Regions from separate parts of the Homo sapiens genome. Here region 2 is linked to region 1. Evidence: fine-mapped expression QTL. Tissue or cell type: whole blood. Region 1 holds a variant in brackets; the other region holds the start of a gene. All regions are shown on one strand. Distances are between the middles of the regions.

What was found. PIP is the estimated chance that this variant, and not a neighbour inherited with it, causes the effect.
Region 2: SBF1 starts here. The variant in region 1 is fine-mapped to the expression of SBF1 in whole blood (TOPMed, PIP above 0.99).

What each region holds. Positions count from the first base shown.
Region 1 is chr22:50,446,469-50,453,871 of GRCh38, reverse strand. It overlaps SBF1 (SET binding factor 1), which reads left to right. Exons shown (of 41, transcript NM_002972.4): 37 at 5,222-5,329; 38 at 5,428-5,639; 39 at 6,263-6,350; 40 at 6,419-6,550; 41 at 6,632-7,403. The coding sequence ends at 6,730. Among named protein-coding and RNA genes, the nearest start is that of SBF1, 25 kb to the left of the region's middle. The variant G/A (reference allele first, on the strand shown) is at 2,594.
Region 2 is chr22:50,473,007-50,479,106 of GRCh38, reverse strand. SBF1 (SET binding factor 1) reads left to right here and starts at 4,072. Exons shown (of 41, transcript NM_002972.4): 1 at 4,072-4,321. The coding sequence starts at 4,267. RefSeq lists enhancers at 2,910-3,819, 4,730-5,639, 5,640-6,100 and silencers at 3,916-4,120, 3,701-4,160, 4,581-4,710.

The DNA of each region.
Region 1 (7,403 bases):
TTGGACCTAGGCCACGGGGGGACCTGCACTCAGCTCCCCACTGTTGGCTGTGTGGCCTTAGAGGTTATCTTTTTTTTTTTATTTTGAGATGGAGTCTCGCTCTGTCGCCCAGGCTGGAGTGTAGTGGCGCGATCTCCGCTCACTGCAAGCTCCGTCTCCCGGGTTCACACCATTCTCCTGCCTCAGCCTCTCGAGTAGCTGGGACTACAGGTGCCCACCACCACGCCCAGCTAATTTTTTGTATTTTTAGTGGAGACGGGGTTTTACCGTGTTAGCCAGGATGGTCTCGATCTCCTGACCTCGTGATCCACCTGCCTCGGCCTCCCAAAGTGCTGGGATTACAGGCGTGAGCCACCGTGCCTGGCCTAGTTATCTAAGCATCTTAGAGCTTCTGGTTCCTTGTGCAGAAAGTGGAAATGCTGATTCCTGCCTTACAGGGAAGTTGTGAGGCTTAAATGAGTCATTTATTTCAGTGACTTAGCATGGGGCACAGGGTTTGGGGGAGTACGGGAGTCATGGTTTGTGATGGAGGTGACCCACAAAGCACAGACAGCAGTCCCTTTTTCTCTCTAGCGATGCTCATTGTCTTAAAGTTGACGCGGTCTCATTGGTGCTAACAGAGTCACTCAGCTTTGTCATGACCAGTGTCAGCTTGCTCTGTTGTTTTCTTGTATTTTTTACTGGTCTGTGTGTTTATGTTTAAGGTGAGTTTCTTGTACACAGAATGTAGATGTAGTTGGGTCTTCTTGTTATCCAGTCTAATGGGTTTTTTTAATTGGAATTTTTAGCCCATTTTAATTTACTGTTACTATTGATGTGGCTGGGTTTAAGTCTGTCATCTTGCTCTTTGTTTTCTCTTTGTCCCTTTGATTTTTTTTCCTTTCTTTCTTTTCTTTTTTTAAAAAACAAGTGTTTTTAGTATTCTGTCTACTGTGAGTTGAGCTGTACATCTCTGTGTTGTGTTTCAGGGGTTGCTGGGGGCTATAATCATCTGACTTGAAATTACATCACCCTGTTGACACCAGAAGAGCCTTACGGCAGTGTGTGTCCATTCATGCCTTTCCTGTCCTGTTACTGTCACACATTTTATTTTTACGTATGACATAAACACCCAGTATGGTTTTTTTTTTTTTTTTTTTTTTTTTTTTGAGAGATGGAGTCTCCCTCAGTCACCCAGGCTGGAGAGCGGTGGTGCGATCTCGGTTCACTGCAACCTCTGCCTCTGAGTTCAGGTGATTCTCCTGTCTCAGCCTCCCAAGTAGCTGGGATTAGAGGCACCCACCATCATGCCCGGCTAAATTTTTTTTGTATTTTTAGTAGAGACGGGGTTTCACTGTGTTGGCCAGGCTAGTCTCAAACTCCTGACCTCAGGTGATCCGCCCGCCTTGGCCTTGCAAAGTGCTGGGATTACAGGCGTGAGCCACCGTGCCCGGCCCTGTTTTTGTTTTAAATAGTCAACTTTGTTTTAAGGAAATTAAGAAAGAAGGAAAAAGTCTTCTATTTTTGCCATTTATAACATTCTTCATTCTTTCAGTATAATCTGGTCTGGTTATTATTTCTCTTCAGCCTGAAGAATTTTTAATATTTCTTGTAATGCAGAGCTGCCAGTCACAAATCCCCTCAGCTTTTGTTTATCTGAAAACATCTTGGTGCCTTTATTTTGCAAAGGGCATTTTCTCTGGATATGCATTTCTAGGTTGACAGCTGCTTCTTTTTTTTTTTTTTTTTTTTAATTCAGCAGTTAAACTGATGTCACTTTAAAAGATCTCATTACTAGGCTGGGCGCAGCGGCTCACGCCTGTCATCCCAGCACTTTGGGAGGCTGAGGCAGGTGGATAACCTGAGGTCAGGAGTTCGAGACCAGCCTGGCAAATATGGTGAAACCCCGTCTCTACTAAAATATAAAAATGAGCTGAGCATGGTGGCGGGTGCCTGTAATCCCAGCTACTCAGGAGGCTGAGGCAGGAGAATCGCTTCAACCCGGGAGGTGGAGGCTGCACTGAGCTGAGATCGCGCCACTGCACTGCAGCCTGGGCGACATGAGTGAGACTCTGCCTCAAAAAAAAAAAAAAAAAAGATATTACTTTGTTTTCTGGCCTGTATTGTTTCTGCTTAGAAGTTGGTGTTGATTCTTATCCTTATAAACTGTGTATAATGGCACCCTTTGATTCTCTGCCTTAAGATTTTGCATTTAATTTTGGCTTCAGCAATTTGACCATTGTGGTTTTTGCTTTCGTCCTGCTTGGGGCTCTTTAAACTTCTGGGTCTGTGGGATGATCATTTTTGTCAAATTTAATACATTTCAAGCCATTGCTTCTATAAATTACTTTTTCTGCATGATCTCTCCCTTTCCTTCTGGAACTTTATTGTCCCATACGTTGCTGAAGCTCTGTTTGTTTTTTCTCAGTCTTTATCTTTGCAATTCATTTTGGATGATTTCTGTTGGCTTGTCTTCAAGTTCACTACTCTTTTCTTTCTTGTTTTTAATATACTGAAGCCCATCAAATGAATTTTTTTTTAATTTCTTGAGACAGGGTCTTGCTCTGTTGCCCAGGCTGGAGTGCAGTGGCACAGTCATGGCTCACTGCAGCCC[G/A]AACCTCCCAGGCTCAAACAATCATCCTGCTTCATTCAGCCTCTTGAGTTGCCAAGACTACTGGCGTGGGCCACGTGCCGGCTACTTTTTTTTTTTTTTTTTTTTTTTTTTTGTAGAGATGGGGTCTCCCTATGTCACCCAGGCAGGTCTCAAACTCCTGGGCTCAAGCAGTCCTCTCACCTTGGCCTCCTAAAGTGCTGGGATTACAGGCATGAGCCACCACACCCGGCCCCATCTAATGAATTTAACGCTTTTTATTGTAGAGATTCCCCATCTGATAAACCATTATGTCCATCTTTTCTTTTAAATCTTGAAACATAACTTAAAAATATATATAAAGATGGGGTCTTGCCATGTTGCCCAAGCTGTTCTCACACTCCTTGGGTCAAGCGATTCTCCCTCCTCGGCCTCCCGAAGTGCTGGGCTTACAGGCGGGAGCCACTGTGCCCTGCCTGTGTTGTCTTTCTTTAAGCTTAGAGTCTTGGGTTTTATTCTCGCAGGTAGGTAATGAGCTTGTGCGTCAGCTTGGTCTGTTTGAAGCTTGTTTCTAAGCTTTGTTTGGGCAGCTCTCCAGCACCTCTAGAGAAGCTCCAGGGATAGAGCAGCCCAAGGCGTGTGGCCTCTCCAGGGCTTCAGTTGGAGTTTTGTGTCTTTGTGTCTTCGGTAAGGTCTTGCCACACTGGCTTTTTGGAAGTCCAGTATCTTTTAGCATTCCTCTAGAATTTGGGTTCAGCTCATAGTTTTGTTTTTTTTTTTTTGAGGCAGAGTCTCACTTTGTCTCCCAGGCTGGAGTGCAGTGGCGCACTCTCGGCTCACTGCAGCCTCCACTTCCCATGTTCAAGCAATTCTCCTGCCTCAGCCTCCCGAGTAGCTGGGATTACAGGTGCCCGCCACCATGCCCAGCTAATTTTTGTATTTTTAGTAGAGACAGGGTTTTGCCATGTTTACCAGGCTGGTCTTGAACTCCTGACCTCAGGTTATCCACCCGCATTGGCCTCCCAAAGTGCTGGGATTACAGGTGTGAGCCACTGCTGCCGGCGTCAGGTCATAGCTTCTTAGTAGCTGTTCTCTGCCAGGCCTTGTGACATCTTGCTTTGCACATGGCAGCCTAATTTGGCCAACGACTCAAGGAGGGCTCTGTCTAGATTTCTAGAGCCCCTTTGCTGTGGTGCTCCCTCCCCTCTGTGGGCTGCCCTGCAGACCCAGCTGCACTAGCGCCCCTGGACGTCCCGTCTCTGCCTCCTCGGCTCAGCAAGCTCCCGTGTGTTGCTCTGGCCCTGCCTCCCTGCACTGTGGCTGGGCAGAAAACAGGTGACTGTGGGGCCCATCTTATGTGGTCCCATGTCTTAGGCTCCTGTCTCTCAAGCTGCACTGCTTGTCTGACATCTGGAAACAACGGCTTCCCCTTCTTGTCCAGTTTCATCATTTGCATATGGAGGGAGGGCTGTTCAGACTAATTATCTGTCATGGCTGGAAGTTGACAGTTGGCCTCGTGTTTCTCTTTTGAAGTCAGCCGTCAGTTTTATTGTTGCTCTTTCAAAGAGAGCATGTCTTTTTTTCTTCTGGCAGGTTTTGGGACTTTTCTCTTTGTTTTTCAGCAGTTTTTCTGTCCCATTTTGGGGTGTGTGTGTGTGTGTGTGTGTGTGTGTGTGTTTGTGTGTTTTGAGACAGAATCTCACTTTGCCGCCCAGGCTGGAGGGCAGTGGTGTGATCTCGGCTCACTGCAACTTCCGCCCCCTGAGTTTAAGTGATTCTCCTGCCTCAGCTTCCTGAGTAGTTGGGATTACTGGTGCCTGCCACTGCGTCCGGCTAATTTTTGTATTTTTAGTAGAGTTGGGGTTTCACCATCTTGGCCAGGCTGGTCTTGAACTCCTGACCTCGTGATCCACCCGCCTCGGCCACCCAAAGTGCTGGGATTACAGGCGTGAGCCACCGCGCCTGGCCCTAAAATCACTCTCTTGAATTTACTGTATGTTCTAACTCCTGTTTCATTTCAGGGTCTATTTTAATGTTTTTCTCCATTTTTCTGCTGTTCTTTTATTGTAAGCTGGACATTGTGGACCCTGCAGTGTTGAAGATCAGTATTGTGTGGTCTTTTTTTTTTTTGAGAAGCAGTTTTGCTCTTGTTGCCCATGCTGGTGTGCAGTGGCGCGTTCTCGGCTCACCGCAACCTCCGCCTCCCAGGTTCAAGCGATTCTCCTACAGGCGTGCGCCACCATGCTGGGCTAACTTTTTGTATTTTTAGTAGAGATGCGGTTTCTCCATGTTTGTCAGGCTGGTCTCAAACTCCTGACCTCAGGTGATCGGCCTCCCAAAGTGCTGGGATTACAGGCGTGAGCCACCACGCCTGGCCGGGGTGTGTGTTTTTAACTTACCCTGTTGGGGTCTGTAGTGCTTCTTGATTATGTTGTTTGATGCCTCTGGTTAGTTTGGGAAATTTTTCAACTGTTGTCTCCGAATATTCATTTTGCATATTCCTTCCCTCCCTCTTGCCACCTCCCCCTGTGGCCAGTCACACACGCGTTAGGCCTTTCCGTTGTGTCTCTTTCCTGTGTTTTCCTTTTGTCTTTTCGTGCTCTAGTCTGGATATTTCCTTTTGAATAAACTTGCCATTAATTCTTCCCCCAGGAGCTGCAGAGGCTGGAGACAGAGTTGGGCCAACCCGCTGAGCGCTGGAAGGACACCTGGGACCGGGTGAAGGCTGCACAGCGCCTCGAGGGCCGGCCAGACGGCCGTGTGAGTGAGGGCCAGTGTGAGCGTCCACGGTGGGCGTGTTGCTGGGAGAAAGTGGAGTCTGTCCAGCCCTGACCCAAGTCCCAACCTCCTGTTCCCAGGGCACCCCTAGCTCCCTCCTTGTGTCCACCGCACCCCACCACCGTCGCTCGCTGGGTGTGTACCTGCAGGAGGGGCCCGTGGGCTCCACCCTGAGCCTCAGCCTGGACAGCGACCAGAGTAGTGGCTCAACCACATCCGGCTCCCGTCAGGCTGCCCGCCGCAGCACCAGCACCCTGTACAGCCAGTTCCAGACAGCAGAGAGTGAGAACAGGTATGAGGGCACCTCCCACTGCCACATGGACACCTCTGAGCTGGTGTTCTGGGGTCCCAGGCAGTCCTCTGGTGGGAGATTGCGGGTGCTTTTGAGGAGCTTGCTTAAGTATACACCACCACTGGGAGGGGTTTGGGGTGTCGAACTGGTGACCACAGCTGACCACAGCCTGCAGTGGCTGAGGGAGGAGTAGAGAGAGGGCAGTGGTGGGGCCCCCGTGAGTCTGGAGTCTGGCAGGATCCATCCCAGGCAGCTGCTGCCGTGGCTGCTTCTACAGATCTACCTGCCTGGCCATCCCTCTCCTCGTAAGGGCGCCTGCCCTGTGTAGGGGGCTGCTTTCCCAAGACCCTGAGGCTCTGGTGTGGGGATGCTCCCTGGAGTCTGGAGGGTGTGAGGCGCCCTTCACTGTCTCCTTTCTGGGCGTCGTCTTCTTGGGCCTGCAGCCCCCCATCAAAGGCTTCTTTGTGGCCCCCTGGCCAGTGCTCTGGGCTTAGGTCAGTTCTGGGGACAGGGTGCCTGGTCTTACCTCCTGGGCTGGGACAGCAAGGGGGGGACGACTGCTGGGGCCTGGGCTTGGCTGGGCCATGACGGTCAGCCTGGCCCTGGTTCTGCTGGAAATGCAGGTCCTACGAGGGCACTCTGTACAAGAAGGGGGCCTTCATGAAGCCTTGGAAGGCCCGCTGGTTCGTGCTGGACAAGACCAAGCACCAGGTGAGTGATCAGGTGGTGGGGGGGACTCACGGGGGAGGGGGCTCCGCTGACTCTGTGGCCTCCTCCAGCTGCGCTACTACGACCACCGTGTGGACACAGAGTGCAAGGGTGTCATCGACTTGGCGGAGGTGGAGGCTGTGGCACCTGGCACGCCCACTATGGGTGCCCCTAAGACTGTGGACGAGAAGGCCTTCTTTGACGTGAGCCTTGGCCGGGGCTTGGGAGAGGGGAGGGGCTCTGCGGTGTGGGGGCTGCGGAGTCAGTAACCCGCCCTTCCCCAGGTGAAGACAACGCGTCGCGTTTACAACTTCTGTGCCCAGGACGTGCCCTCGGCCCAGCAGTGGGTGGACCGGATCCAGAGCTGCCTGTCGGACGCCTGAGCCTCCCAGCCCTGCCCGGCTGCTCTGCTTCCGGTCGTTACCGACCACTAGGGGTGGGCAGGGCCGCCCCGGCCATGTTTACAGCCCCGGCCCTCGACAGTATTGAGGCCCCGAGCCCCCAGCACTTGTGTGTACAGCCCCCGTCCCCGCCCCGCCCCGCCCGGCCGGCCCTAACTTATTTTGGCGTCACAGCTGAGCACCGTGCCGGGAGGTGGCCAAGGTACAGCCCGCAATGGGCCTGTAAATAGTCCGGCCCCGTCAGCGTGTGCTGGTCCAGCCAGCGGCTGCAGGCGAGTTTCTAGAACCAGAGTCTATATAAAGAGAGAACTAACGCCACGCTCCTGTGCCTGCCTTCCCCACTCCCCGGCTGCCTGCTCTCGGCCTACCCAGAGGGTCCCATCTGCCCCTATCCAGGCCCACCTGGCGGGAGGTTGGCATCTTTCTCGTGAGCCTCTCCTGGTGCCTGGGTCCACCCAGCTCGGCCTGCATGTCCCTGGGAGTGACTTTGCTCTGGGGGCGGATCGAGCAGGAGGCTTCACTGGGGACTTGCTTGATTCCCTCCACGCCTCAGGGCTGGTCTAGGGGCCGGCACGGCTGGAGAGGAAGCCCCCATCCCTACCCAGGGGATGCAGAAGCTGACCTCACAGAGGCTTGGGGGTGAAAGGGTGGGTGG
Region 2 (6,100 bases), 26 kb before region 1:
CTGGGGAGGCAGGCAGAAAGGGCTTGAGGGGACAGAGTGGATGGGTGGGAGAAATTTAGCGGGGCAGGACGGGAAATGAGGGGCTCAGTTCCCGGCGAAGCCCTTCTGTTTGCTGATGTGGCAGCTGCTGAGGGGGTGGGAAGAGGTCGGGGCCTGGACATGCTGAGGCCGAGCTGCCTGGGGGTTGTCCAGGGAGAGGGGTCTGGTCGCTCCCCAGCCTGGCAGGCATGGGACTAAAGATAAGGCAGGTCGAGAACAGTTTTGGGGTTTCAGGGATGGCGCAGCCATGGAGGATATGGTGAGCCTCATCCACAGAGAATGCGGAGAGGCTGGCCAAGGATGGAGCCCAGCGCCAGCTCTGGAGGGGCAGGTAGGGAAGGGCCTGAGCAGGGGATCCCCCAGGTTCCCAAATCTGCTGCTGCGGCTTCTGCTGCTGCCTCCCCACTCGGCCCTCAGCCTTCCACACTGCCACCAGCTCTGTCCTTTCAAAACACAAGTGCAATCAAATCGTTCGCCCCACCAATAAAGAAAAACCAGCAAAAATTCCCTGTCCTCAAGAGGCTTTTTTTTTTTTTTTTTTTTTTTTTTTGAGACGGAGTCTCGCTCTGTCACCCAGGCTGGAGTGCAGTGGTGTGATCTTGACTCACTGCAAGCTCCGCCTCCTGGGTTCACGCCATTCTCCTGCCTCAGCCTCCCAAGTAGCTGGGACTACAAGCGCCCTCCACCATGCCCGGCTAATTTTTCTGTATTTTTAGTAGAGTTTCACCGTGTTAGCCAGGATGGTCTCGATCTCCTGACCTCATGATCCGCCCGCCTTGGCTTCCCAGAGTGCTGGGATTACAGGCGTGAGCCACCGTGCCCAGCCCTCACAAGGTTTTTAATCTGGGACAGGTGGAGGACAGCCCCAGCGAGGGGCTGCGTTTCAGGCCCTGAGATGACAGGACAGTTGCTGCCCCTGTGAGCCACAGTCCTGCCTCCCGCCAGCTTGTGGGGAGGGTGTATCCTCTGCCCTCAGGCATCAGCCTGGCTGCTGCTTCTGCACCTGCCCAGCCCACCAGAGAGGAGGCCCCGTCTGTGATTCCCAGGGTCCCTGGTGCTTGTTGCATGTGAGTCCATTCTTAGTTGGAGAAGCTGCTTCTGGGGAGCGACGGGGCTGCCCCAGCACCGCTTATGATGGACACAGGTGAAGGGGAGACACAAGTTTCCAAATGTGCGAGGGCTGGGCCATAGGAGGGGGCGGTGGCCTTGGGGAATGCTTGTGAGAAGCAAAAGAAGCTAGGGTGGCAACTGGCTGGACAAACAGCATCTTGGGGTTTTTTCCTTTTTTTTTTTGAGATGGGGTTGCGCTCTATCTCCCAGGCTGGAGTGCAGTGGCGTGATCTCGGCTCACTGCAACCTCCGCCTCCCGGGTTCAAGCAACTCTCCTGCCTCAGCTTCCCGAGTAGCTGGGATTACAGGCACGCGTCACCATGCCTGGCTAATTTTTTGTATATTTAGTAGAGACGGGGTTTCACCATGTTGTGCAGGTTGGTCTCAAACTCCTGACGCCAAGTGATCCACCCGCCTGGGCCTCCCAGAGTGCTGGGATTTACAGGCATGAGCCACCACGCCCGGCCTTTGGGGGGTTTTGTTTGAGTGTTTTATGATGGCAGAGGTAAGTTTGACTCTGATAGCAAGGAATCCATAGACAGGGAAGGATGGAGTTTGGCGGCGGGCACTGACAGTGAATGATGGCCTGAGATGAGGAGTGGGCAGGGGGGCAGAGCCCTGTGGTAATGGAGGGAGGGGTGGTGTGAGAGGTGTAAGATGGGGGCTTGGTGCTCCCATCTGATAGCTTCTATTTGCTCTCTGAGGAGCAGCCAATTATCTCAGAGACACTGGAAGTGGGGTGAGAGGTTCGAGGAGAGTGCAGACTGCAAGACAGCTGACCAGAAATCAGCAGGCTGGGCGGTAGGGAGGGGCATCCATCCATCTGAGACACTGAGCCACTGTGGATGGTTGTTCCCAAGGGCCTGGTGGAAGCATGACAGTGGAGAGAGTGCGACGCAGGGTCCCCAGAGTCTCAGAGAGAGTGGAGAGTGCGGTGCAGGGTCCCTAGAGTCTCTCCGAAGAGAGCCAGCCCTGGGCTCAAGCACTAGCCCAGACTTGCCCCGGGCCCCTGCCAGCCTGCACACAAGCTCAGTGGTGTGGTAGTGTGGTGCTGAGGACCTTTTTGGGTACAAGTGACAGAAACCAACTTGAGCCAGCTGGGGCAAAAAGGAGGATTTCTGGCAGGGCACAGTTTCTCACACCTGTAATCCCAACACTTTTTGAGGCAGATGCAGGAGGATCATTTGAGGACAGGAGTTCAAGACAAGCCTAGGTAACTTATCAAGACCCTGTCTCTACAAAAAAATTAAATTTTAAAAAGATGATTTCTCAACCTGTGAAAACCAACAGTGGGAGAGGAGAGGCGTAGCGTGGCCTGTGCCTGAGGGCAGGGAGGGGACCCTGGTGGGGCCTCTCAGTTTGATTCCATTCATTCTCTTGGGCTGGCTCCTGCCCATGGATGGAGACTGGATGCCAGTCATTTGGCCAGTTCTTGCAGCAGCCAAACTCATTTAAAAACAGACCTTCAGGGCCAGGCGCGGTGGCTCACACCTGTAATGCCAGCACTTTGGGAGGCCGAGATGGGCGGATCACGAGGTCAGGAGATCGAGACCATCCTGGCTAACACAGTGAAACCCTGTCGCTACTAAAAATACAAAAAATTAGCTGGGCGTGGTGGCAGGTGCTTGTAGTCCCAGCTACTCGGGAGGCTGAGGCAGGAGAATGATGTGAACCTGGGAGGCGGAGTTTGCAGTGAGCCAAGATCACGCCACTGTACTCCAGCCTGGGCGACAGAGCGAGACTCTGTCTCAAAACAAACAAACAAAAACAAACAAAAAACAAAAAACAGACCTTCGGGCTGGGGGCGGTGGCTCATGCCTGTAATCCCAGCACTTTGGGACGCCATGGTGGGTGGATGGCCTGAGGTCAGGAGTTCAAGACCAGCCTGGCCAACATGGTGAAACCCCCTCTCTACTAAAATACAAAAATTAGCCGGGCATGGTGGTGCACACCTGTAATCCCAGCTACGCGGGAAGCTGAGGCGGGAGAATTGCTTGAACCCAGGAGACGGACGTTCCAGTGAGCCAAGATGGTGTCACTGCACTTCAGCCTGGGTGACGGATTGAGACTCTGCCTCAAAAACAAAACAAAACATAACAAAAAACAGACCTTGGCCTGCTGTGCTCAGAGGGGTTTCCCTGCTGCACCAGGCTGGCTCCTGCACCTTCTCTCCCAGCATGTTCTGCTCTGGGCTCATGCTCATCCCTGAGCCACTTCAGGGGTGGCCCTGGCCAGCCCTGCCCTTGAGAGGGGTGGGCACTGTCAGGGATCCTGGGGGATGCAGCTTTCCCAGAGCCCCCTGCTCCGTGGCCTCATGTGCCTCACACGCTTAGAACATTTGCTCTTTACAGGGGGACATGAGCGTGCCGTTTTTAAGCTGTGTTAAATGTCTCACTTGGCCTAGATGGGGGCTCTTCAGCCTGGGACCCCAAGGGCAGGGCCTGAATTCTCTCTCTGTTCCCCATCGCCAGGCTGGCAGCCCCTGAGGTGATGGCCCTGCGCCTCCTCTGACTTCTAGTTTGGGGGGCCCGGTAGGCAGCGCCTAGGCTTCTCCCGCCTTTCTCCCGCTGGACAGAGAGGGGCGGGGGACGAGGAGTCTGGGGACCCGATCCCCAGATTGGGACGGCCCAGGGGTGGGGTTCGGGCTCCTGTGCGGGGAGTCCCAACGGCGAGGGCAGCTGTGGTCCTGGCCCATGCCTCCCGCCGACACCACAGCCGACCCGGGTCAGGGCGTCAGACCCGCCGGAGCCGTAGTCCAGGTGCCCGGCCCGAGGGGCGGTGCTCGGGCCCCAGAGTGGTCAGCGATGGGCGGGGCGCTGCTCTCGGGAGCCGCCCTCCCACCCTCTGGACCAATGGAGATGCGCGGTTGCAGGCCCCGCCCGCTCAGGGCTTGACGACAGCGCGCAGGCGCACGGCGCGCCCGGGCGGGCCGGCTGGCTGGGAAGATGGCGGCGGGAACCTGGGCCGCCGCCGCCGCCGCCGCCGCCGCCGCGGAGCGAACCAGGGGTGTCCGGGGTGCGCGGTCCAGGGCCGGGGCCGGGCCATGAGCGCGCCGTCCTCGAGTCCCCGAGCCGCGGAGCCCGCCCGCGCCCCTCGGGCCGCCCCGCGTCCCTCGCCATGGCGCGGCTCGCGGACTACTTCGTGCTGGTGGCGTTCGGGCCGCACCCGCGCGGTGAGTGCCGAGGCCAAGCGCTGAGGGCCGGGGGCCGAGGGTCGAGTGCTGAGGGCCAGGGGCTGGGTCTGAGGGTCGAGGGCCGGGGGCTGGGGGCCGAGGGCTGGGGGCTGGGTCGGGAGGCCGAGGACTGAGGGCCGGGCGCTGAGGGCCGAGGACCGGGGGCTGGGCGCTGAGGGCCGGGGTCGGGGGAGCCGAGGACTGAGGGCCGGGGCCGGGGGCCGGGCGGGGACTGAAGGCCAGGGCCGACCGGACAGCCCGTGGGGAGAATGGGCGTCCGCTGGGGGCGGCGTGGCCGCGCGGGCCTGGTGGCGGCAGGGAGAGAAGGCTGGGCCCGGCCTGCCCGGCCTCCTTGGGGTGGGACGGGCTCTCTCCTTGGCCAGCTGCGGGCGGCTGTGGCTCTAGTGGCTCCAGGGGCGCGGACCCGCGGCTCGCCAGCCCGCCTCTGACCTTGGTGCTCCGTCTGAAGCCCCCGGCGGTCTTGGCGGGGTGCAAAGAGGGGGTGGAGTTCGGGTTTGGTGCATGGAGAAGCGGTGTTTGATTTGAAACTGGGAGGATTTGAGGAGGAAGCGTCGAGAGTAGAGAGAAGAGCATTCCTGGCGACTCGCCTGACGGTCCAGGCCCTGCACGCCAAGCCCTGGGTGGGGTATCAGCGTGGCGGTCGGTGCCCATGCCCAGGAGGTCTGTGTGTGGGGTCAGCGCCCGTGTCTGAGAGCTCTTCAGCCCAGGAGGTAGGAGAAAACGGAGCCTGACGATGACATCAGCAACAGCCTGGAGACAGCAGCGTTGGCGAGCGTGCTTGGTGTGCCAGGCCCCGCACAGCCCTTTGTGTACATGATCTCACCTCTTCCTCCCAGCAGCCCACCGGGGTTGCCCTGGTGTTGCCCCCATCTGTAGAGAAGTTAGGCGCGGATAAGCTGACTGCCTGGCCTGAGCCGGCTCAGAGAGGCTGGGACTGGCACTCAGGCTGTCAGATCCCAGCTGCAGACTGGCAGTGTGTGGGGATGGCTGTGTGGTCAGGCAGGGGCTGGATCTTGAGCCTGGAGGTGGGATTGAGCTTGCCTTCCCAGTTACCCTGTTTTTTGTCAGTCCAGTTGTCACTGTCCCCACCAAGGACCTGGAGTTCTCTCTTTTTTGTGTTTCTTCTGCTGGACACCCCCCTACACTTCCTGAAGCCTCTTTAGCATCTTCTTCGTCTCCAGCCCCTCCTCAGTGCCCTCTTACTCAGCACACACTCCTCTCTGCTCATGTCTATCCAAGTGTGTGTCTTATGGCACCGTCAGTCATGAGCATCTGTCTTTTTCTTTAGAGAGGGAGTTCTCGCTTGCTAGGACCACATAGTCCTCATCCCCACTGTGCAGGTTGGCTGTCAATGTTGTCTTGACCCACAGAGGGAGCTGTCTGCACCGAGGCACCTATGAGGGGCATGGAGGAGGCCTTACCACCTGGGGCAGAGGGTGCCTGAGGATCCAGGGAAGCAAGGCTGGCTGAGGGCTGTCTTGGCGTGAGGGGCCTTGGGCTGAGGGCTGGGGCGGGGGCTACAGGAACAGCTGATAATGACCCTGATGATCCTGAGGGCAGTGTGGAGAGGGTTTGGGTTGGTAGAGACTGCAGGCAAAGGCCAGGTGGGAGGCGTGGTGGCCGTGGGGTGAGGAGTTGAAGGTAGGCAGAGAGAAGAGGCAGAGTGGGCTCCACAACAAGCTGGCTGTGACGTGTGTGCTCACTGCTGGAGCCACACGTAGTGCAGGCACCTGTTTGTGTGTGTCCTTTGCGCAGGAC